3 separate regions of the Homo sapiens genome follow, and all the other regions are linked to region 2. Evidence: fine-mapped expression QTL. A gene starts in region 2. Each other region holds a variant in brackets. All regions are shown on one strand. Distances are between the middles of the regions.

Region 1 (8,183 bases), 33 kb before region 2:
ATCTGTCAGAGCAGATTTCCACTGCAGGCACCGAAGCCTCGGGGACAGGCAATATGAAGTTCATGCTAAATGGGGCCCTAACTATCGGGACCATGGATGGGGCCAATGTGGAAATGGCAGAAGAAGCTGGGGAAGAGAACCTGTTCATCTTTGGCATGAGGATAGATGATGTGGCTGCTTTGGACAAGAAAGGGTAAGAGAATAGCTTCTCTTTGCTAGGCAGGACTGCCCCTCCCCCCTAGAAGGTATGTGACCTCAGAGGGCTTCCTGCCCACACCGATATCCCACTGAAATTGGATCACATAAGAGGTGGCAGCAGAACATCTCCCACGATGAGGCAGGAGAGCCTCCTGGCCACAGATTAATATTATTAAACCCAGCAAATAAAAGTACAGACACATGGAGGAGTTGCTATTTGTTATCGGCCATTGCAGAGCTGGCCTCAAAGAGCTATTTTTCCTCCGTATGTATGATTTTTACTTTGATCAAAAGATGAACCAGTTTCTAGTTGGAAGGGTTGCCTATAATTTAAATCATGATCTAGTGCTCCTTTAAGATATCAAAGAAATGCACTAAAATGTGATAGAGAATAGATACGGGTGTACAGAAGTAATTGGAAACATTTATTTTCACTTCATATCTGGATGGGTTTATTAACCTGAGTTCAAGCACAAAATAAAGAGTACTGCCCAAAGAAGTAACATTTGGAGGATGTTGAATATACTTCCTGACCCTTGGAAGTCAGTTTCACTCAGTAGCAACAACTTTTGAGAATCTGTGGATCCAAAAAGCAACTGATCTACTTAATACAATGTTCATTTAAAGCCATAAAGTCTGCTTTGAAATGGACCTTGCTGTATTCTACCACATCAGACTCTTGATGTTTGACTAGAGTTTTCATTATCTATTGTTCTTAGTGTCTTTGGTTATAAGGAATCAAATTTACAGGAAGAAAAACTTACAGATCTAGTTAAAAGTTATATATACTCATGGTGAAATCTATAATGAAGTCTTTGAATGCTAGTATTTCTGAATGTATTTTTTCACAGTGAATGCAGTGTCTAGTGTGTTGTTAATCACACAACACAATAACAGAGCCTTTTTTTATCACCCACCCACCCCTACCCCACAGGTACGAGGCAAAAGAATACTATGAGGCACTTCCAGAGCTGAAGCTGGTCATTGATCAAATTGACAATGGCTTTTTTTCTCCCAAGCAGCCTGACCTCTTCAAAGATATCATCAACATGCTATTTTATCATGACAGGTGAGTTCCCATAAGAAGATGGTGCTATTTGGATCATGAAAGGGGGACAAGAAAATCTTAAACCAACCAACTCTAAAACCAACAAGAAAATCTTAAACCAATCTTAAACCAACTTAAACCCACTCATGTAGATTAGCATAGATTAGCGTGATCTGCTCAGGTAGTTTAGGCTTGGGGAAAAAGTTAGATATTCTCCACCAGCGATGCCAGTAAGGTTTAAGAATAACACACACAAATCTGGTTCTCTTTTTCTCCTTCCACTGATATTCCCAACTTCCAAATGCATCCCAGTGATGACATTCTCACATGTGAGAACCATAAGAAGGTTGAGGGCTGGTTAAAAGTCTTACAAACAGAAATATGAATTTGGTAAACCAGCCATGCCTGATATTAAGCAAAAGATGATTTTACATGGAATTTTAGCATATATCTATTAATGAAGATTTTGACTGTTTTTTTCCTCTTCCACTCACAAAATAAAAGGTTTAAAGTCTTTGCAGACTACGAAGCCTATGTCAAGTGTCAAGATAAAGTGAGTCAGCTGTACATGGTGAGTAAATTGCCAAGATTTATAAAGAAAACCAGTTTACTATGATTCATTAAAATGTGGGTTTTTTAATTAAATGCAAATATCAGATCCCCATGTAATATCAGATCCCCATTAAGCAATCAAAAAAAAAACAACAAAAACAAACAAACAACCACAACAAAAAAAAAAACCTTGTCTTTTCCCAAGTTCAGGCCAAGGTTGAGATTTGACATTTCAGCAGGAGTTGTAATTTTTTTTTTTTTTTTTTTTTGAGACAGATCTCGCTCTGTCACTCAGACGGGAGTGCAGCGGCGTGATCCTGACTCACTGCAACCTTCACCTCTCGGCCTCCCAAGTAGCTGGGATTATAGGCACGTGCCACCACACTTAGCTAATTTTTGTATTTTTAGTGGAGATGGAGTTTCACCGTGTTGGCCAGGCTGGTCTAGAACTCCTGACCTCAGGTGATTCACCCGCCTCTGCCTCCCAAAGTGCTGGGATTACAGGTGTGAGCCACCATGCCCAGCCAGTTGTAAATTTTTTAATATCCAAGTTTTTTAAAAGTCACAAATAATTCAATATTTTTTGAGCACCCACTCTGTAGCAGACATGTCCTGGAAGCTAAGGAAATAAAGCCTCAGAGGGGCATTAGGCGTCTTTTTTATGCCGGGCACTGTGCTGGCACTGAGAACACAGCATGAGCAAAGTTGAGGTCTCTCCCTCCCTCCCCTCCCTCAAGGAGCCTGTTTGAACATCGAGATTCTTAACCAGAGGTACACATCAGAATCACCAAGGTAGCTTCATCATAGTACAGATGCCAGCCCCCGCACTGAGAGATTCTTTCCCAGTAATGGGTGGGGTCATCAGTATTTGAGAAACCTGCCATGATGATTCTAAGGCTAAAACATGGTTTTTTAAGATAAGGACTGACCCCTATTCTCTGAAAATTGCAAAATAGGTACCTCTTCTGGACTTCTCATGGAGGGGGCTGTATCAATAGAATATAAATTCGTAGAAAGAGAAAGGTGTTCATAATTGAATTTTTAAAAAAAGAAAGAAGAATAAGGAAGACAATACTATACTGAGGGGAAAAAAAAGGGATGGGTAGAGCCATGTGAATAAGCCTCTGCATGCAAAGTTATACGCTTTATCAAACAACTCTCTAGCTGTGTTTTGTAAATATGTAAAAAGGTTGATCATCTCTGATAGGAGAGACTTTTAGTGAATTTCAGATACCCTAGAGGAATGGATACTGGAGGGGGCTAGCTCTGTGCCAAGACTCCAGGGTGGGTTTTACTAACATTTCTTTCTACTCCTTTCCCAAGGCAGATAAAAGGGTAGTTCCTACTGTCATCCTAAATGTCCCACTGGGATTTTAAAAAGGATCATTCAACGCCTGTGCTGCTTTACAGCCCTTATCTTCTAATAGAATAATGGCCAGTCCCCCAGTGGCATATAGACCAGAATAAGTTCAAGTTAATGGCTACAAACAAGCAGGGCAGTGCTAGAGCTAAGCTCAGGGGCTCACTACCTGCTTCCTGTACATTGGAGAGAAAAGCCATATACAGGCCGCAAGAATGCAAAGACACAGGGAAGAGAACGGCCACCTCAAGACAGATCAATAAAACAGCACAGGAAAGAAAAATATGAACAAGGGCAAGGACAAATGTGAATGTCTCCTCTGTTAAAATTATGGCCCAAATCCAAACGATGCTCATCTAGAAACCCAGCATTTGATTCGGTCTTTCTTGTTCATTAGTGCTAATTGCAGCTTTTTACTCTTAACAATGATTGTATTGTTGAGACTTAGTAAACATGACCCATATGACTGGGAA[G/A]TCTATTCATTATCCATTTAAATAGTTAAAGAAAATGAAGAGAGAAAGCTTTTATCCTCCTCTTATTACAGGAAGCTTCCAAAGTCTGAATAAACAAATTTCAGATGCTGTTTTGCTGTACCTTAAGGAATGATGGTAGTTTTAGTCTTTCTCGTAAGCATTTATAATGCATTGATAACATTTTTGAATAATGTTCTGTTCACTTCCAATACACTTTTAGAGTTCCTTACAAAATTAAGAGGCTATAAAATAAATTCCTTCTTATCATATTCTTTTATATAAAAATTATGAGATTTTGATATATTTTTATTAAGGATAAAGACTCAATTGACCCTGTTTTGAAGCCCCAGTGGAGTGTTTGGGACTCAGTGTAAGCCTACTAGGGTGCGTATCTTCAGAAAGAACAAGAAAAGCTAAGTAGGTCAATAAAGCCTCTCATTGAATTGTTTGCCTGCATTATAGCTAACATTTTAGAGTAGTGTTTTTCAAACTCTATGAGCCATAGGATAAGTCTCTTGACATGGCATTTAGCAGACAATGGATTCCTCCCCTATAGTTTAAAGGGAAGCATCTTCATTCATAAGAAAGCATGGGAAATATGGCTTACATGCCAAAACATTGTAACCATAGCAGGAATTGCCAACTAGGCAATGTACATCCATGGTTTCTCTTAGAGTGAAAAATACCTTTTTTTCATTCCTAAGAGAATTATACTCTAAATATGAGAAAAGTGCATTCTATTCTACCTCTCAACAGACAAACAAGAATATTTGTAATTTACTATAATTTATTCCTGTCATTTTCCCTCATGAAATGTGTTTGGATGTGCTTGGCTGATGTTTATTATAAAGCTCACTGCGCACTGGGACTCTGGGCTGTATATGCATATGTTGTTTACAGAATCCAAAGGCCTGGAACACAATGGTACTCAAAAACATAGCTGCCTCGGGGAAATTCTCCAGTGACCGAACAATTAAAGAATATGCCCAAAACATCTGGAACGTGGAACCTTCAGATCTAAAGATTTCTCTATCCAATGAATCTAACAAAGTCAATGGAAATTGAACTCTAGAATTGTCTCTAGAAAACATAGCTTCTTACTGAACTTGAACATTTTTACAACATTCACTGGTTTTTGTTTTGTTAGCTAATAATCTATAATAGTTGAGTATCTCTGGGAATGGGGAGGGAAATTATATGTAATAGAGCTTAAAAATAAAGTGTCAATTTCCAAGGGCTACATGAGTGCCAAAACTTATTTTATAGCAAATCTAGTGATGCTTTGCTACTGCTAGGATTTACCCCAAAACTAGTCATAAAATTAGAAAACTGCTTAGAACTTTCAAATGCCATTTAAATGAACTAAACTAAAATACAAAAAACTTAACTATGTAGAAGCAACTTTCTTACACTGCTATCTGAGTCCAAACCAAAGACCAATGTCTTAGTCCCTGTGGGCCACTAAAACAAAATGGCATAAACTGGGTAGCTTATAAACAACAGAAATTTATTTCTCACAGTTCTGGGGGCTGGGAAGTCCAAGAGCAAGGCACTGGCTGATTCAGTGTCTGATGAGGGCTACTTTGTGGTTCATAGATGAAGGCTTCTCACTGTATCCTCAAATGGTAGGAGGAGTGAAGAGCTCTTTTGGTCATAATTTATAAGGGCACTAATCTCATTCATCAGAGCTCAGTCCCACCTCCTATTACCATCACACTGGTGATTAGGTTTCAGCATAATTTGGGGGGGCAGGCCCAGATATTCGGACCATAGCAACTACCTTATTCACAAATATCCACAGAATGTTTAATAACTACATATTTTTAGATAGGATCTAGATTTTACCAAATTCTGGTTCTCCACAGTGAGGTTTCAGCATGTTTTACAAAGTAGATTATGATAAGCTAAATAAGAACATTCCATACTGCCTAACATTCGTACTTTCTGTTGTTAAAATGGCAAGTGATTTGTAGAGAAGTCAATGGCCTCAGCTCATCCGACCAGCCCAGTACAATTTTACATTAGAACAATATACATCACAGGTGGTGTTTGGGCCAAGTCTTCATTGAAGATTTCCACTCCTCCCAGACTCATGACCACTGCTTGCTCAGGAAATCTCTGTAGAAAAAGGACCCAGATCAGCTCACACCCTTTCCCTACCTAAATAAGCAAAATATTATACATTTTCATGTTGTGGCCTAAGTAAGCCAGAGCAGCCCTAATTGCCTTGAAGGGCAACATACATTTAGCAAAGCAACTCTTACCTCACGGTTATTAACAGTGTGGGGCTTTTACAAAGCAGGTTGTGTTGGAAGCCAGGAGGAAAGATAACCATCTTGACCCTCTCTTTGTTCCTGTATGCATTGCGTGCAATTTCATAGAGCTGCAAGCGACAGAAAGAGACTCAAAGGATGGCCATTCAAAGCTGTAGATTTTTCTAGTCCAATTTCCCTAAAAGTGTACAGAAACAGCTAACTTGGGGAGTTTGTTCCATTAAGTCAGAGACAGAAAACTCTCCATGTCCCAGTTGCCTGTCTCTACAGCTAAAGATCTGAATGCTGCTCAGCTAATATAGAATACTGATAAAACCTCATCCTTCCCTGCTTGAACCTCCCTGCAAAATGCCAAGGAATTGTTATGGACCCACTCTAGTAGAAGTTTGTTTAAAAGGAAAAAGTCTGCGTCTTCCATTTTAGAGCCACTACAGTAGAGACGACATGGAGGTTCCCACAGCAGCCTGGGATACCCTACACTTGCAGCTCCACACAATCCAGATGAGGAGCCAGGCTCTGCCACAAACACTCCTTTGAGCTAAGTAGCCAAGGATGCTGATACCCATTTTATAAACCTATAGAGGCTATTTAGGGGTGTAGAGAATCTCCTATAATGTCAGAGACCCTCCTTTCGGCTCTAATCAAAGTTTGGCTGAATGAAAAAAATGGTGAAATGAGTATAGTATATTTCAGTCAGCATTGAGCCCTTAGTTTACCTTTTTCCCATACTCCAAAGGCACTGTCCTGTCATCCTCTCCATGTAAGATGAGAAGAGGAGAAGAAAGGAATTTAACACTAGGGACAAGTAGAAGAAAAGCATTCAGTTAAAGAATGATACATTGAGATTTCTCCTCTTCTAAGTTAAAGCTTTAGCAAAACATGAGGCCTGTCTAAATTACAAGAAATTTCTTTCCTTCCTTCCAAGGAATAACAATATCATACATTTAAAAATTTCACATAGTAGCTTTTTTTCTCCATGCAAGTTTCCCTCTCTCCCATTTACTCATGCAATTTAACTGGCTGTTTAATTAATTTACTTCTGCATGATTTTTGGAAATACTAAAAAAAAAAAACAAAAAACACTGAAACACTGATTTTGTACAGTGTTAGAAGAACCTTATATTCTTCTTTACTCCACCTATTTTGTAACATCTGAAATATTTTATTAAAAGACTAAAAAAGAAAACAAAACTCAAAACCTCAATAAAACAAAAACTATGACAGAATCAGAGACCTCTTTGTAGCAATTTGTTTACTTTTCTCCATAAATGTAGAGGATGGACGTGCAGTTAACAGGTCTGATTAGCTTCCTGGTCAACCCCCTAGTTTGCTAATTCAAAAGGGCTATGGCATGAAGAATGTCTTGTCTCCCACTCTAGTTACTTTCTCAAGCAATGCTTCCCTGTCCCCCCAAAATTCTGATACCCATCCATCTCTGCCACAGTGACTCACTGACACCCCTGAGAATGTTGGATTTTCTCAAGTGTGTTGACATAGAAAAATATATTGACAACTGTCTATTTGGAAGCATTCTTAAATTCTCTAACTGTAACAGGCTAACTTGATAAATTCTAGTCATTGGATTTGCTGTCACATTAGTAAGGTGGATGGTAGACGAGTTTTCATTATATGGGGAAAAGGGCCTAGAAGTCAGAGATGCCTCAAGAAATGTTAGGCTGGTTTTTTGTTTGTTTGTTTGTTTTACAGGATGTCACTCTGTCACACAGGCTGGAGTGCAGTGGCACAATCACAGTTGACTGCAACCTCAACCTCCCAGGCTCAAGTGATCCTCCTACTTCAGCCTCACGTGTAGTTGGGATGACAGGCACGTGCCCCCACGCCTGGCTAATTTTAAAATTTTTTGGTAGAGATGGTGTCTCCCTGTGTTGCCCGGGCTGGTTTCAAACTTCTGGGCTCAAGCTATCCTCTCACTTCAGCCTCCCAAAGTGCTAGGATTATAGGCATACGCTAACACTACCAAGCCCTTTAAAAGGTCTTGATAGGCTATAGATATACAACTTCGTTTATGAATTCAGAGAGAGTACTGAATTGGTGAAGTCATTGAATTAGACATGAGGAAAATAGCAAATACTAAAAATTCATAGATACTTTACCCAAATCTTAGTGCCCATCTAAGAAGCGCAGAACAATATTCTAAGAATAAGAATGATATTCAGGATGTCTCATGTCACCATCCAGTAAGTCACATGATAGTTGCCCCTAGAATCCTTTAGATACAGTAATAATGCATGTCTTTTCATCATTAACTTACTTTTCAT
Region 2 (8,183 bases):
TGGAAGATAATTATTACCTTTGCTTTGCAAATGAGACTGGAAAGTTAAGTAATCTTTCCAAGGTCACAAGTCAATGAATGGCAGAGCCACACATACCCAGGTCTGTCTGATCCCATAGTCTTATAATGATCTCCAGGATGTCACAGTCTTGGTGACATCCATGTAAGCAGAAATGAACCCCAGGAACAAAGCTGGCCTCTGGCAAAATTCTGCTCATAGACAATCTTGTTTTAAGATCTCCTTCTGCACCTTAGCCCTCTCAGCAGGGTCCCGTCCTTTCTTCTTTCCTCCTTCCTGCTCCTGTATTCTCAGGAGCCCTCTGATAACAAAGTCATCAAAGAAAGACCTCTAAAAAAATTAATTCCCCCTGAAGTGTTAATGACTTAAAAATCAGAGCACTTATATGTGTTTGGAAGAGGCACGAAGAGAGAAGATAATGAATCTCTGATGAATTTCCAGCAGTTCTGCAAGAAGTGGAAAAGATATGTGGGCTAAGGGTAATGGATAGATTTTTGAATACATCATACGCTGGCAATTGCCTACTCATAAAATCAGCAAGAAAGAAATGAAAATGATTGTTTCATAATACTTTAAAATAGCACCCCACCACCCCTGCCATGAAGGCGGCAGGAAGGAGAGGACATTGTTGTTCTGATTTTAGAGATAAGAAATCAAAACCCAGAGAAGCCACTTTGAGCCACAGATCAAGCCCAAATGGACAGAACTGAACCCAAGGCTGAACTGTGCCTCCTTCCAGCTGCTGGCTCCTGCTGGCTTCCTTCTAAGCTCCCCTCACTCACCTCCACCCTGCCTGTTAGTCTCCAGCTAAGCTGTCTTTTGAAGGTAGGCAGGGTAGTCTCCCGCTAAGCTATGTTTTGAAGGTCTGCTTGGGAAGCAGAGGCAGTAGAGGGAAATGTGTGTCTGTTTTTTAAGGAATAATTCATACACAGTCCTTCTCTCAAATAGCTCGAGGCACTTTTCTGAGATGCACTGCGGGAAGAGAACAGAGTGACCAGATCCTCAGAGCATCAATAATGCAAAGCAGCTTCTTTTAACTAAGGGGTTGTCAATTTGACTTCCCCTAGATCAGTAAGGGATCAAAAGTCACCAGTGGCTAATAGACCTTATTTGAGCAGAGGATGCAGTTTCAGCCCAATCCCCGCTAACGGCCAGCCACATCAAACGGCCACCTTGGTGCTTTGGTGTTCTTTCACTTGCCCTTTGATCAGCTGCAGCTGTAACCACACAGCGTCCCACAGGGGACTCAGAACCTAACTGGATGATTCTTACTGGTGAAAGCTGGTGGAGTCTGAGCTGCTACAGGGTGAATCACTCATGCTCAGAGGTTTCTGCAAACCAACTTTGGGAAGCCCAAATCTAACTACATTTACTATTTCAAATATTAAGACAGGTACCTTCAACCTGTGTGCCAATTCACTCAGTCGACATGTGTTTGTCACCAAGCACCGGGAGACATCCTCCCAACCAAATCCCCTCTTCCTTCACACCCATGGAAGTATCTCTTTTTTGTCAAAGTCTCCTGGAGAGATCATTCCATGGTGACCTCTCCTCTCTTGTCTTTCCTCCCACAAATAATAACGGGGCCTCAGCTGGCCTTGAATTGTTCTGTGATGGCTTTCCCATTATTAGCCCTGTCTTCTCCACTCTATCAGGCCACAGACAACAAGAACAACATGGCATAGAATGCTTCCTTTACATTTCCCTCTGTCTAGCCCAGGGCTGAGCTCAGTAAATATTGACGCATAGGTTGAAAATAGAAAGAGAGTGCATTTATTTTGTAAGGGAGAAGGAAGCAACATTTATTGGTAGCTTCAGAGGAAAGAGGAAGGACTTCATTTTCTTTTTTTTACTTACAATTGCAAATGAATCAATGTGTGCTCCACAGAGCAAGGATTTTGTCTGTTTTATTTACTGCTGTGTGACCAAGACTAGAATACTATCCAATAGATAATAAAGAACCAACGCTGTGGAAAGAATGAACACATTTATCAGCCTACTCCTGCACATTTTCTGAGCACTATCTAGGATTGTAATGACTTGGGGTGGAATGGGGGAAATGAGGAGGAAAATAAACCTTTGGTTTCCCCCAACTTCCTTCTGGAGCACATTTTCCATTTTTCTTTTTTTATTATTATTTTTTTTTGAGACGGAGTCTCGCTCTGTCACCCAGGCTGGAGTGCAGTGGTGCGATCTCGGCTCACTCCAACCTCCGCCTCCCAGGTTCAAGCAATTCTCCTGCCTCAGCCTCCGGAGTAGCTGGGACTACGGGCATGTGCCACCACGCCTGGCTAATTTTTTGTATTTTTAGTAGAGACAGGGTTTCACTGTGTTAGCCAGGATGGTCTCCATCTCCTGACCTCATGATCTGCCCGCCTTGGCTTCCCAAAGTGCTGGGATTACAGATGTGAGCCACAATGCCTGGCCTCATTTTTCTAATTTAAAGAAAACCAGTTGTAAAGTGGAGACTTACTCTCCTTGGCCCACCCACCTTAAGCAGCAACTGGATTTGATAAAAATTTTTGTAAAATAAATAACTAGATTCCCAAGGCATTAAAAAATAGCCACTGAAAAAATCATATGATGAAATGTTCTTGGGTCTCACAACACATCCCACTAGTTCCAGTGCCATGATCAGGGCCAGGGGCATGGCAAGCCCTCCATGAAGGTTTGCTCACCTAAGTGAACCCGGCTCCAAGAATCAAAGAGGACTTGGGATAGTGGAAATGGGTCTGGGCCTCAGCCTCAGCACATCTTATGGTAGCCAATAATCTTCTGCTCAGATGAAGACATACGCTAGTATTTTGTTCTTTCAGGAAGTGTCTCTTGAGACTTTTTTCACTAATTAGTAAGGCAAGTAATAGATGGTCCCCAACTCCCTATCTCCCACTCCATTATCAACAAAGTGGGTTATTCTCTATGAGTATGATGTGCAACTTTGATTCTCTGCCTAATAAATGCCCTTTACTGCCAAATAAATGTTAAATAATCAGCCATCAATTCCACAGAGACCATCAAAGTGAAAAACATTAGATGTCAACGTTCCCAGAATCACCACATCTGGGAGAGAAGTCCTGTTAATATGCAGTTTGACAAGTGCAATCAGGACATTCTGCCACGTGTTCAGATCCAACCCAGAGCTGGGAGGCATGGGTTCTAGGTGACTGGGCCCCTGCAGAGCTGCCAGCACTCTGCTGTCTGCAATGAGAATAAAAAGGAATAGAAGAGAAAAGAGACCAGGTGCAGTGGCTCACACCTGTAATCCCAACACTTTGGGGTGCCAAGGCAGGTGGAATCTGTGAGCTCCAGGAGTTTGAGACCAACCTGAACAATGTAGTGAAAACCCATATCTACACAAAATACAAAAATCAGCTCAGTGTGGTGGCAGGTGCCTGTAGTCCCAGCTACTGGGGAGGCTGAGACGGGAGGATCGCTGGAGCCCTGGGAATGAGCCAAGATTGTGCCACTGCACTCCAGCCTGGGCAACAGAGTGAAACCCTTGTCTCAAAAAAGAAAAAAAAAAGAGAGAGAGAGAGAGAAAAGATCCCCGTTTGTCATCATCACTCTGGGCACTCCAAAGTGAGGTCTCCTGTGTCTGGATGTAATTTTTGGATATTTTCTAATCAGCACAAATTAAACAAAAGGAATAGAAAGAGGGAAGTAAAAATGCCAATACCTTCCCACACCAACAAAACTAAATGAAATACCCACGTGTCCTGGGTCCACGATCTCCAACCAATACCTGGCTTCAGTGCAAACAAGACTGACAATATGTTGCAGGTGGATTCAGGTAATTTAAGATTACTGTTTAAACCGAGGATCCATGGGAGGAAGAAAACAGAAACAAAACCCGAAACACCCACTGATACATTTCAGACTTAAACAACATAAGAACTTGGCACAGGTAATGCCAAGTTATGGTTTCAACACACTATGTACATCTTTAGCATACTGGAGGTGTTTTCTTTAAATACATGCCAGGGAGTTCACACTCAGGGAACTAGGCACGGATTTTCTGATTCTTTTCCACCTACACAGATAGGCCCTTGACCTAAGAGGATCCCGTCCAAGATTACAACATATATTACTATTGTCACTATTACTAATGTCATTCAGATCCATCTTGTATGTTAGCAAAATGGTCAGATAATAGAGATTGGTGTAGGAATTCAACCATCTCCCTGGCATCTGTATTTCAGAAGCCCCCAAAAGTTATAACTTCCTGAAATACCAAACCTGAGAGTCTCGCTGGTCCAGGTTGGGATTGAGGCTGAGGATAGCAAGGGCAACCAAAGAGCCCTAGAGTTCTCAGGGGGCCGCCGAGGTCCCCCGGAAGCCACAATGCTGGGCCTTGGGCCCGGGCCAGCAGAGGGGATTGCGGCCTCGGCCGCGCCCTGGCCCCCTGCCCCATCCCCGCGCAGCCTGAGCCGTCGGGGCCCGGCCAGGGGTGGACCGGGCGGTACTCACCGCAGGTTGCGGTCGACCATGTCCCACCAGGCGGCCACGCAGCTACGGGCTGGGGGCCCGGGCGGCTCGGGCGATGCGGCCGCCTGGCAGTCCTGCGCGTCCATCCCGCGCCGTGTCCCGATACGCCGCCACCGCCGCGGGAGCTGCAGTCCGGAGCAGCCGCCCGCGACCTTCCCGCCCCGGCGGCACCGCGCCCGCCCTCCTCCTCCGCGCGGTCAGGCAGGCTGGTACGGCGGGGGAGACGCGGCCCGAGGGTGCGCTCCGCCCGGGTCAGGCTGTTCGCGGCCACACACACACACACAGATGTCCTAAGCTTATAGCTAGCTATGCTACATTTTATTTTAAATTGATTTCCATTATACTTCTGTGTGTGTGTGGGTGTGAGGCGCGCGCAACGCAGTAAAATATGTTTTCACCATGGTACTACTAACACAAAAGTTTGACCGCCACAGCTTTTGATTTTCATGAAGAATATAAGCTTTCCTCTACTTAAACCTCACTTTTTTCTTTTTCTCTTTTTCTGAAGCCTCCTTGTCTCCAATTCCCCATCCACCCCCAAAATCCTCACAGCCCCCCACCCTGTCACCCTTACTATAGAAAGAATTTCTTTGGCTCCCTTTGATTTACTAATGATTTGTCTGTCCACGTGGGGTTATGAACACAATTACTCCATGTAGCAAAAAATTAAGACCTTTTCGGTATTTTGTTTACGTAGCAGCATGTAGCAGAACCTCATCATTGTACCAAGGAGTTCACACCTTGAAACTTTGACCTTGGTACAGGTTTACATCTTGGTGCAGGTTTACATTGTGCAACTGTCTCCTAGGAGCAGGAACTGTCTACCAGAGCTACTCTAGGGAAGCCACGGCCTGCATGTGTGGGGACAAAGGAGGAAGAAAGGGAATTAGGTTTTATTTGGATACATTCGGATGCCAGCATCAAGGCTTCATCTTGGAGGCAAGGTGCAAATCTTAAGAGGTGAAATGGGTTTTTTGTAGTGTCTGTGTTCAGAGGGCACAGCAGGGGGCTGTCAGCACCAGAAAGTGCGTGGAAACCCATCTGCTTGAGGATAGTAAGATGGTCTGGGGGAAAATACCCACACTTTTCAAGAAAGGGAAGTTTTCTTTGAGTACTAGCTCATTTCATGGAACTGTCAGGGCAAAGGGGGATTTTGTTCACTGCCTGTTAATACTCTTATACTTGCTCTGGGAATGTTTGTTTTCTTTGTTTCTTTCTCTTTCCTTCCTTCCTTTCTTTCTTTCTTTCTTTCTTTCTTTCTTTCTTTCTTTCTTTCTCTTTCTTTCTTTCTTTCTTTCTTTCTTTCTTTCTTTCTTTCTTTCTTTCTTTCTTTCTTTCTTTCTTTCTTTCTTGTCATGGTCTTACCCTGTCACTGAGGCTGGAGTGCAGTGGTGCAATCATAGCTCACTGTACTTGAACTCACTTGAACTCCTGGACTCAAGCAATCCTTCCACTCCAGCCTCCCAAGTAGCTGGGACTACAAGCATGCACCACTATGCCTGGTGCGCGCGCGCACGCACGCTTGTGTGTATAGAGATGAGATCTCACTATGTTGCCCAGGCTGCTATCAAACTCCTGGCCTCAAGCAATTCTCCCACTTCGGCCTCCCAAAGTGCTGGGATTACAGGTCTCTGTCACCACACCTGGCTGGAATGTTCAGTTTCTGATTCACACACATCAAGATAGAAGAGGAATTAGCTCAGAAAGGACCAATGGGATCCAAGCCTGACTGATGAGCCAGCAGCAGGTGGGTTTTCACAGAGCCACAACCTGCATGATGAGAAAGCTTCAAGCAGATGTCGGCTCTACCCTTGGAGTTCTTCATAAACGTGGTCTGGAATCTCCCAGAACTTGTTCAGGGAAGCTCTGGATGGGACTCTGGGGCCATGCCAAGTGGAGATGGAGGGATCAAAGATGGGGAGGAGAGCTTGGAGGAGAGAAGAACAGCTGCATATGGTCCCAGAGTCTATTTCCATCTACTTGCTCAGGTTGAGAGAGGATATTTCCATCTACTTGCTGGATGAACAAAGTTGTAAGCCCCAAGTCTAGGGATATGTTTGAAATGCTCAGCAAAAATCTCTGAAATTGGAAATCACTATGGCCCATTTTTTGAAAGGTTGCATAAGACTCTGCAAGAAGGTCTTTCCCAGTATAAATAGCCCCTTTCAAATGGCACATCCTGGAAATCAGGGAACAAAGTCTCCCATATGATTTGATAGAACCTGAAAAACAAAATATGCATTCATTTATTCAGCACCCATTTACTGAGCACCTTTTAGGTACCAGGTACCACATTGGGCACCGTAGGGATACAAATCAGGATCCCAGCTGGTAGAGATTCATTTCAGGATGAACCATGAGAACACAGAACAGGAAATGAAAAGTGTCTTAAGGGTAGAGATTAAATCAGGGGATAGCAGGGGCTGGAGGTGGGGAGGGGAGGTTGACTACAAAGGGGTGCGAAGGGACATTTTAGAGTGATGGGAATAGTCAACATCTCAAGTGTGGTGGTGGTTACTATAAATATCCACCAATGCATATAACTCACAGGTGAATTTGACTGAATATGAATTATACCTCAACAAACCTGACTTTTGAAAAGTGACCTAAGAAATGTACAGATAAACTATATAAATGAACATGTCCTATGTCATGTTGTATAAATGTTAAGACAAAGCTGATGGTACAAATACATCAGAAACCAACAGTTGAATGTTATTTGCACTAGCAGAAAAATAAATCTTGATTGGAGACAGATTAATTTGACCACCTAAAATTATTCTGGAAAAACAGGGAATGGGGAATAAGACTGACCACCTCTCAGCTGCTGTACAGCTGTGAAGGTAAACTGCTGGTAATAAGGCAGTTGGGTGTTGAAGACCTAGATATCTTGAAAAGAAAGTATGCATCCCCCTTGTGTTTTCTTTTATTTTAAATAAAGCATTATGAGACATAAAATTCACACACTATAAATTCACTATTTTAAAGTATACAACTCAGTAATTTTAGTATATTCTCAGAGTTGTGCATCTATCACTATTATTTACAATAACTTTAGAACATTTTTATCACAGCCCCCCAGAGAAATCCTATACCCATTAGCACTCACCATTCCTCCCTTCACCTGCCCTAAGCAATCACTAATCTACTTTCTGGCTCTGTGCATTTGCCTATTCTGGACATTTCATATAAATGAATTAAACAATATGTTGCATTTTGTGTCTGGCTTCTTTAACTCAGTATAGTGTTTTCAAGGTTCATCCATGTGCTATCTCAGTGAATACTTCATTCGTTTTGGTGGCTGAATAATATTTTTTTGTATGGATATACCACATTGTGCTTATCCACTCATCAGTTGGTGGACATTTGGGTTGTTTCTACCTTTTGTCTATTGTAAATAATGTTGTTATAAATATTTGCATACAAGTTTTTGTGTGGACTTACGTTTTCATATCTCTTTATTGTACAACTAGGAGTGAAATTGCTAGGTCATATAGGTAACTCTATGTTTAATTTTTTGAGGAACTGCCAAATTGTTTTCCAAAGTGGCTACCCCATTATACAATCCCACCAACATAAGCACCATGTACCTTTTTTACCCTTTCTCAGCTTTCCGTGCACAGGTAGGAATTTTTTTTAATCTAATATTGTTGAGATTGAAATAAACCATTAAAGGGAAG
Region 3 (8,183 bases), 100 kb before region 2:
GGACGAAGTTCAATATTGCTAGATCTCAAAAAAATGGGAAAGACAAATCTGATCGTCCATTTTTAATGGCATTTTGTGAAACCATCAATTGAAGCATAAGACACAATTCTTTGTAAAATGGCATTTGTATGCAGGTTCTTTAAAATCACTACATCTCAGAGTATAATTATTTCACTGTACAGAGAAGAAGCCTCTTCTTCAGTGCTGTCATTTCACAGACAGCCTCCAAGTTCTTAATTCAAATGCAACAAGCCAAAAAACTGCTATCCTTCTGGAATGAGTTTTTCTGTTTAATGGATAACATAAGGCCCCAAATCCAATTTCTCATGCATGTGGTTTAGGTGCAACAAAAGTGCTTCTTATTTTGACTTTCAAATTAAGTCACTTTGTATTTAATGATATTTAATTCACACCATTTATACAAAGTGTGCAATATTCCTAGAGTCAGAGCTCTGATAGCCCAAAGGCGACTTTTTCCTAGTCTTTAATGTTTGGTTTTCTACTGCTGTGACTCAGTGGTAGAGACCCTAATGAATGAGTTCACTCTCAGCAACAGCAGAGCAACTCACAAGGGCAGATATCTCCCCCTAGGAAGTGAAAATTGATGGTGGCAGGGAGGGAGCAAAAAATCATACTCTTGTTATGTATAAAACACAGATATACACACAGTACCAACAGGTATACAGTATATCTGCGGTATTAAAATTTATGTGCAAGGGATGATTAGGGAAACGGTTTTGGGGTAGTGATGATTATAAACAGGTTGCAAGACACTGGTTTCACCACACAAAAGGGGGGAGCTTCTAGAGTGACCACAAGGAAATGAACCCCAATTTTTCTCTTTTCCTACAGAACTGAGGGAGGGATCACAAAAGGGGCCACAATTGGGGTCCTCCTCGACTTAAATAGAAAAAACTTGACATTTTTTATCAACGATGAACAACAAGGTCCCATAGCATTTGATAACGTGGAGGGCCTCTTCTTCCCTGCGGTCAGCCTGAACAGGAACGTGCAGGTAAGCACCCTGCCCCTGAGGTTAAACAGCTGTTGCTGGCTACCGGTTCAAAGGCTGCCCAGGGCCGTTCAATCCAACCGAAGAGAGGGAAGCTGACAGCGTAAGGCCCAGACCAAGATATGAAGGAGAGGAGGAGAGAAAGGGATCAGCACTGGCAACTTATTTTATTCCACGCCAAGCATAAGCACCTTCTTTATACTTGGACGCAGACTAGTTAATAGCACATAGGAAACTAGAATTCTCTTCATGGTTGGCTAATGATCATCTCTGTAGCTCTAGTTTCACCTCTAAATAGAAACGAAAGCCTTTAACCAACTGGCATGAAAACAAATAGAATGACTTAACAAAGCTCAGGAGTGCCTGAGAAGAGGTGAGGGTGTAAGACTGAAGCATTAGTATCATTATCAGAAAATCTGAGCATCTTCTCTGCACTCTTGTTTGGCTCTGTTAGGTCCTAAGGGGTAGAAAACATAGTCCCTACCTACAACTTAGTCAATTATTATTTATTATAGAATAAAACAACAGCTTCTCATTTATTCATTCAGCAAATATCTATAGAATGCCTTTAATGTGCCAGGCACAGTTATAAGTGTCTGGGATACATCAGTGAAAAAAAAAAACAAAAAAACAGATAAAAATCTTGCCTTCATAGAACTTACATCTTAGTGATAGGAGACAGACAATAAATAATAAGCATAATTACAATGTTAATCAGATGGTGTGTCAGAAGGTGTTTAGTGCAGTGGAGAAAAGACCAAGGGCCCATGAGTGGTGTGGTTGGGAAGGGCAGCCACAGTATTGCGTAGGTAGGGCTTATCGCAGTTACCGGTGAGCTGAGCCTTAAAGGAGTGAGGGAGTGAGTTGCGTGGAGCCTTCCAGACAGAGGGAACAGCCTGTGCACAGTTTCTAAGGCATGAGGGGCCTTGCATGGGCAAGGAATGGTGGAGAGACTCTTGGGCTGGGGCCTGGAAGGGGGACCAGAGCCATGCATGGGGGAAGAGCTGTGCCCTGCCAGCCGCTGTCAGGACTTAGGGTTTCACTTCCCTCCTGAGCTGGGCATCTCATTAACAACTATGAGCCTCATTCCACAAATGGTTGTCTTGAGATAAGGCTTGAGAATTACAGGTGACTTTTGCCCTATCCAGAACCAGCCTTGGAAACTATTTATCAAAATTCATTGTTGTGTTTCAGTATGTGCAGTAACATTGATTGCAAACTAGCAGCCCCTGCCCTTCTCCCTGCAAGGAGATGGGGTTTTCTAGAAGGCTGGAATCTAATCTTTCAGAGTTCAGCCTCTACACTTTAAGAAAGAAAACCATAAATTACCCTAGAAGCGAGTCTCAGAAAAACCCCATTCAAGGTTTTTCACATTAGCCATTTCCCTTTCAAAGAATATTATACTAGATGCTCTTCAGGGGTTTTCAGGACCTTCTGATTATCTATTGATAAAGACTCTTGGGCTGGAGAAGACAGGGATAAGAACTGCATGAAATGGTTCTAGTTTTATCCATAGCTATCCATTGAGGTTTGGGGATACACGGAAATTGGTAAAATAGTATAATGCCATGTTTTTTCACAACTGGCAATCATCTATGCGACCCCAGAAAGAAATGTTTGCCCTAATTACAATAACTAGTGGACAAGTAATAAGGGAAGTGCTGTCTCTGCGAATCTGTCCTCTATCCATGGATTTGGCAGTGGTCACTGTGGTGTGGCCAGTAGGCTCCTCTATCTGAAAACCAAGGCCTGTGTCTTCAGTTATAAGGAACACAATCTCCCCGGAATCCTTTAAAAGAGGCAGGTGACTAAGAACCATATAATCAAATGTCACCAGGATTTGAGAGCCCACCATGGTGAGCAGCCTGTTACCATAGGCAGGATTCTTCTTGAATTCCGTTTAATGCCTGCTAGCCTAGATGTTTAAAGCGAAGCAAACAGAACACTTTTTGAGTTAGGGACACACCCACGGTACACTGTGTAAAGGGACAGGGGGATGCACGATGCCTCTCAGGACTCACAGTCTCATTCCCCAGGTCACGCTGCACACCGGGCTCCCAGTCCCCGACTTCTACTCCAGCAGAGCATCAATAGCCTAAGGATGTGCCGTGGAGGCGCCAGCTGCCTGTTCTTACCTCC[G/A]CCTGCGAGAGCCACAGCAAGGAGCTCAGCCAGCCGTGGTGGGGTGCAGAGTTGGCAGGAGTGGGAGAAGGAGGAGAGAAAAGCTGGTCCTCTGCAGTCTTTACACCCACAGCTCTGCCCTTTTCCCTTTCAACCTCTCCTCCGCTGTCATGCCTGCTTCCGCTTCCATGTCCAACAATTCTAACCAACAAAGGACCTAGACAGCCCACCAAGTCACTTGGTTCCCACTCCCAGATTTTGCTTTTATTTAACTTAATTTTTTATGTAGGTGAGTTATATTTTCTTTCTTTTCTGATCAGGTTATTGGTGACTTACTGGACTGGCACCGCCAGGAGAAAATTCTCCTGCTAACTTTTTTTCTTAAGCTTTCTGTCAAACAATGAGGTTGTAGGGGGAGGTAGGGAAGAATGAGCTGAATTTGTAGCATACAGCTTACCTGCTAGAATGTTCTTACCCTCTTACCTCTCCTGTAGCGTTAGCTCTGCAGAGCTAAGCTTTGGGAGAATGAATCTATCACTGAGAAGTTTTACTACTCATTGAAGCACAAAAATATCCGCTACACAGGTTCACATCAGGGTAGGATCGTTAGGATGGCTCTATAATTAGGATAGGCCAGAACCCTGGCCACTGTATAAAATTGGAAAGTCTCTAAGACACAGGCAAACCAGGGGACTTAATGATTTGGTTCGTTTATTTAATAAAAGCTTTTAATTGAGAACCTACTATTGACCAGGCACTGTTCAAGACACTAGAACATTATGTTCTAGACACTGTGGGGACACAGTGGTGAACAGACAGGCATGGTCTCTGCCCTTCGGAGCTTATATTCCAGTAGGAGAAAAAGCAAAAATAAAATAATTATAAATGGTCATATGTACTAGAAAGGAAATGGGCAAGGGTCAAAGAGACTCATGGGCAAGATCTTTCAGGCTTCCTAGAATGATGCTAAAAATCCACACATTCTGGCCATAGCACCAGAAATGTACCAACTCAATGCCTTTTCAGCTGCACTATTTAATTATGGTACCTGCTGCCACTCATCACAGAGCCCTTCTTGGTAGAAATGATGTCAGCATTCTTATTTGCTGATGCTGCTATGATACCACGCCTTAAAAATTGACAGTTGAAAAAAAAAAGAGTGACCAGAGGGCAAAGGACCCATTCTCAGTAATGGGAGATCTTGAGTTGCAGTCCACAGCATTCACATTCTCAGGATAAACATGCTTGTCTCCATATATACTATCTGTGCCTGTTATGAATGAAAAATCCATCCACTCTGCTGCCATTCACAGCCTAATTTTCTGGAGTAGTCCAAACAATGTTTGGAAAAACATGGGACTGTATGTCATTACTATGACTGATAGCAGAATAATAATGCATCTTACTTCTATATAGAGATAGACTTACATAGGTTACCCTTGAAATTCATTAGTTTGTCATAAAGTTTTAGGAAAGGTAGGACCCGGAAAGAAGTTCTAATTAGTTGTCTAAATATTTTTCAGTGAGCCAAGAAATTCACCATGAAAAAACAAGAATAACAAATAGAAGGGAAGAGATAGGATGGGAAAGCTAACAAATTAAAGTTTTGGCAAAAAGGAATATATGTAAATAGCTAATTATTTACTTTTGTGCTTACTTTATTTAGATTATTTCTATCAGTTACAATCTTTTTCTAGTTAAGTGTACCTAATTTATGGAATGGGTGCTATCCTGTTTATGTGTGTCTTGGTTTTTCTTGGCTACAGAAAAACTGTTGCAGGGCAACACTAGTTTGATATTTGATTTACTCTCCAATGAGACTCAATGGCTGGGCCGTGGTAGACTCATAGTTCCTCTTGTTCTTTATTAAATTCATCCTGCTAATTAGATTTCTAGTGACTTGTAACATGTAGTTTACACTGAATTGCAATTACAGATGCATACAACTACTATACTAGAAAAAATTGTCATTTCTGATGTGCCAATAAATGATTTTTATGAGAGAATAAAATGTCTCTAGAATTTCTTAGTTTTTATCTATTGCGGATGACAATTCACCTTTGTCAGAGCGATGTTTCTTCAGGAAGATCTCATTGGAAAGGCCCCCAGAGCTCTGGAGAGCATGTGTTCTTTCCCCTGTTTCCTTGGGCATGTGGCACTGCCTTTTGGTTTTACTCATATGAAATTTAACCTGATGTGAAATGTCCAGTGGAGATGTCTGGGGTCTGCTTCCAAGTATTGGGGATTTACTTCTGTTTTTTTTTTTTTTTTTTAGACGGAATCTCACTCTGTCACCAGGCTGGAGTGCAGTGGCGCAATGTTGGCCCAGTGCAATCTCCCCTCCTGGGTTCAAGCAATTCTCCTGCCTCAGCCTCCCGGGTAGCTGGGACTACAGGCACACACCACCACGCCCAGCTAATTTTTTTGTATTTTTATTAGAGACGGGGTTTCACCATGTTGGCCAGGATGGTCTTGATCTCTTGACCTTGTGATCCACCCGTCTCGGCCTCCCAAAGTGCTGGGATTACAGGCGTGAGCCTGGCCTACTTTATTTTTAAAAAGCCACACATTTGGCTTGCAATTTTATAGTACTGCAAAACAGAGTGTCACTGACTTTTTCAAACCTAGCTCCTTTAACATTTCTTTGAATGGCAAAACAATAATTACAACATTATTCATCTACCTAACATTGTTGTTAGCCACTAAAAAAACACTTTGTTTCTTGATTAAAGGAAAAACATTACCTACAAATATATGGTCTGAGTTATAACCTCACAGAGTGGAATAGTACACAGTTGGTAGCTGCTGCTGCTCTCCGTTGATTCCAGTTTCTACACATTCCTCTTTCTGTCACGGGATCCTTGGGGTGTCACTTCTCCAGCCAAAAACCTCTGTGGCTGGCAGCGCCTTCTGCCTGAGTACTGCCTGCACCTACTGGGCTCATTCTGCCCACTCGGCCTGGCAGGCTGCACTCGGCTCACACTACCAGCCTGGATCCCACACCTGCTAAGGGTGAGTCAGGTGTGGAGTGGCAAGGGGTGTGTGGGCAAGTGAGCTCTGGGTCTGGCCACTGCACACAGCCAGGCAGGCCAGCTGCTGTGGCAGGGCAGGCAGCTCCAGGCACCAGCAAAGTTGTTGGCTCTGTAAGAGGCTATGGCTGGACCAGATGTACTGCACACAGCTTCCACTACAGGAACATGCATCTGGCTGAAGGGTATGTGGTGGCACCCGGAAGCTTGGAGATACCAGGAACCACAGAGCCCCAAAGAGGGTGTCACAGCCCTGGCTCCAGGAGCCCCTAGGTATGGGCTCCCAGAAGGGCCACAGCTCTTCTCTCCTTCTCATCACCTGCAACATGGTGAGCTGAGGGTGGTGGCTGAGGGTTTCAGCCCTGTTTGTGTTACAGCTCTTTCAGTCCCACCATTCAGCAGGTCCCAAGTTCTTGTCCTGTATCCAGGAAGAGTGAGGTACCTGCACAACTGGAGGGTGAGCAAGGCAGAGAGGAGCTTCATTGAGTGACAGAACAGCTCTCAGGAGACCTGAAGTGGGTAGCTCCCTCCACAGACAGGTCACCTTGATGTCTGTGCAGACCCCAGCAGAGAGGAGACCCAGAGTGGGTAACTCCTTCCTGCAGCTGGTAGTGTCGACGTCTGGCTGAGCACAGGGTTTTCATGGGCTCAGAAGGAAGGAAGTGTGTACTGAATGATCCATAGGCAGGCATGGATGGGCCTGGAAACAGCATCATCAGTTCTCACTCTGGGCCACGGACTCACCCCAGAACTGGCAGCCTGGCCCCCAGGCTTCAGGCCATCCCTGGCTTGAAGGTAGGGGTTTCACCAGGGACCTGCCCTTTTCTGTCCAGGAGCATGACTTCCTCCTGCCACCATCAACATGCCTTCCACAGTACCGAGGATGTTTGTGCTGAGGGGTGCCTGCAGGCCTGCACTGGGCTATCTTCGGCTCCACCTCGGCCTCCCTCCCATGCTCATCAGCACCCAAAGTCCAGAGGGGGCTGAGGTGGCAGAAGGCTGGTGTGACAGTGCTGTCCCAAGCACACACACACCTGGGGGGTTTCCGACAGCGCCCAGGCTTGACCACAACTTTGCTCCACCCTGGAGGGGGCACCAGGAGCAGGGAGAGGCCAAGGAGCGGGAGCAGGTACTTCTGAGCCTACGGGGGGAGGGGAGCTTCCCAGGCCCCCAAGAGCGCAGGGATGCCCAAGTCCAGAGTTATGGCTGGGCTGCCGCAGCTGCGCCTGGGATTTTGGGGCTTTGGCCCTGCCAACTCAGTAGGGAGCAGGGCTCTCGCCTGTTCCCGGCCCCTACTGGCTCCGTTGAGCAGACAGCCCCAGGCTCACCTTGCCCCCTGCAGCCAGAGTCTTTGCAGCAGTGGCTCCAGATGGGCCGCTGGTGCCATCATTTCCACTACCATGTTACTTTTTTCTTCCTCCTCTGTTGGTCCCATCTCTGTTCTGGTTTTCTGCTCTTCTGTTTACTACCTAATGGAACGCATTGCTTATGTTTTACTCTTCTCGTGGTACTGAAGTTAATGGAACTTGTAATTCCTCATATTTCCTTATAGGAGTGAATAAGTGATTTGCAAGAAATCATTTTATTTTCTAGAAATGAGGTCCCTTTATTCCTCCCTCTGCTGTAGGCATTAATCTTTTGCCTATCTATTCAACTCACTGAGAAGAAAGGAGGGCTTGCTATTGAATCCAGATTTCTGATTATGAATCAATGGAACTATAATAAACAAACAAATTCTCTGGTCACACTACCTTATGATTTATGTGAACACACTAAAGACACCTGTATGTATTTCTCAAAATATGTGCTAGCTATTTCCACTAAGGCTGATGTTTAGGGAAGCGTGGATCTGACATAATACATCACATACAACTGAGGCGACCTAAATGTTGTGTTTATCTGAAGAACCAATTTTTTGGATAAACACAGAATTTGGAGCACTGAATATGAGTGAACAACAAAAGCACCTAAATAGATGTACAGAAACCTCAGTCTGGGCCTTTCAGTTTGTTACTTCTTCACCC

Which allele goes with the higher level. Alleles are on the strand shown, and positions count from the first base shown. SD is a standard deviation of normalised expression in the study named. Not every link is listed here.
For the expression in cerebellum of the gene that starts at base 4,711 in region 2, allele G in region 3 goes with a lower level than allele A (large effect, 1.2 SD a copy in GTEx).

What was found.
Region 1: its variant is fine-mapped to the expression of ABHD12B in substantia nigra (GTEx, PIP above 0.99).
Region 3: its variant is fine-mapped to the expression of ABHD12B in cerebellum (GTEx, PIP above 0.99).

Annotation. Positions count from the first base shown.
Region 1 is chr14:50,901,905-50,910,087 of GRCh38, reverse strand. It overlaps ABHD12B (abhydrolase domain containing 12B), which reads right to left. Exons shown (of 13, transcript NM_001206673.2): 10 at 8,177-8,183; 11 at 6,621-6,699; 12 at 5,896-6,014; 13 at 5,118-5,749. The coding sequence ends at 5,722. PYGL (glycogen phosphorylase L) reads left to right here. Exons shown (of 20, transcript NM_002863.5): 17 at 1-193; 18 at 1,133-1,267; 19 at 1,751-1,817; 20 at 4,532-4,871. The coding sequence ends at 4,696. Among named protein-coding and RNA genes, the nearest start is that of ABHD12B, 34 kb to the right of the region's middle. The variant G/A (reference allele first, on the strand shown) is at 3,632.
Region 2 is chr14:50,868,581-50,876,763 of GRCh38, reverse strand. It overlaps ABHD12B (abhydrolase domain containing 12B), which reads right to left and starts at 4,711. Exons shown (of 13, transcript NM_001206673.2): 1 at 4,486-4,711. The coding sequence starts at 4,589. RefSeq lists a silencer at 1,179-1,228.
Region 3 is chr14:50,972,219-50,980,401 of GRCh38, reverse strand. TRIM9 (tripartite motif containing 9) reads left to right here. Exons shown (of 13, transcript NM_001387360.1): 12 at 853-1,015; 13 at 3,049-5,136. The coding sequence ends at 3,111. Among named protein-coding and RNA genes, the nearest start is that of PYGL, 32 kb to the right of the region's middle. The variant G/A (reference allele first, on the strand shown) is at 3,152.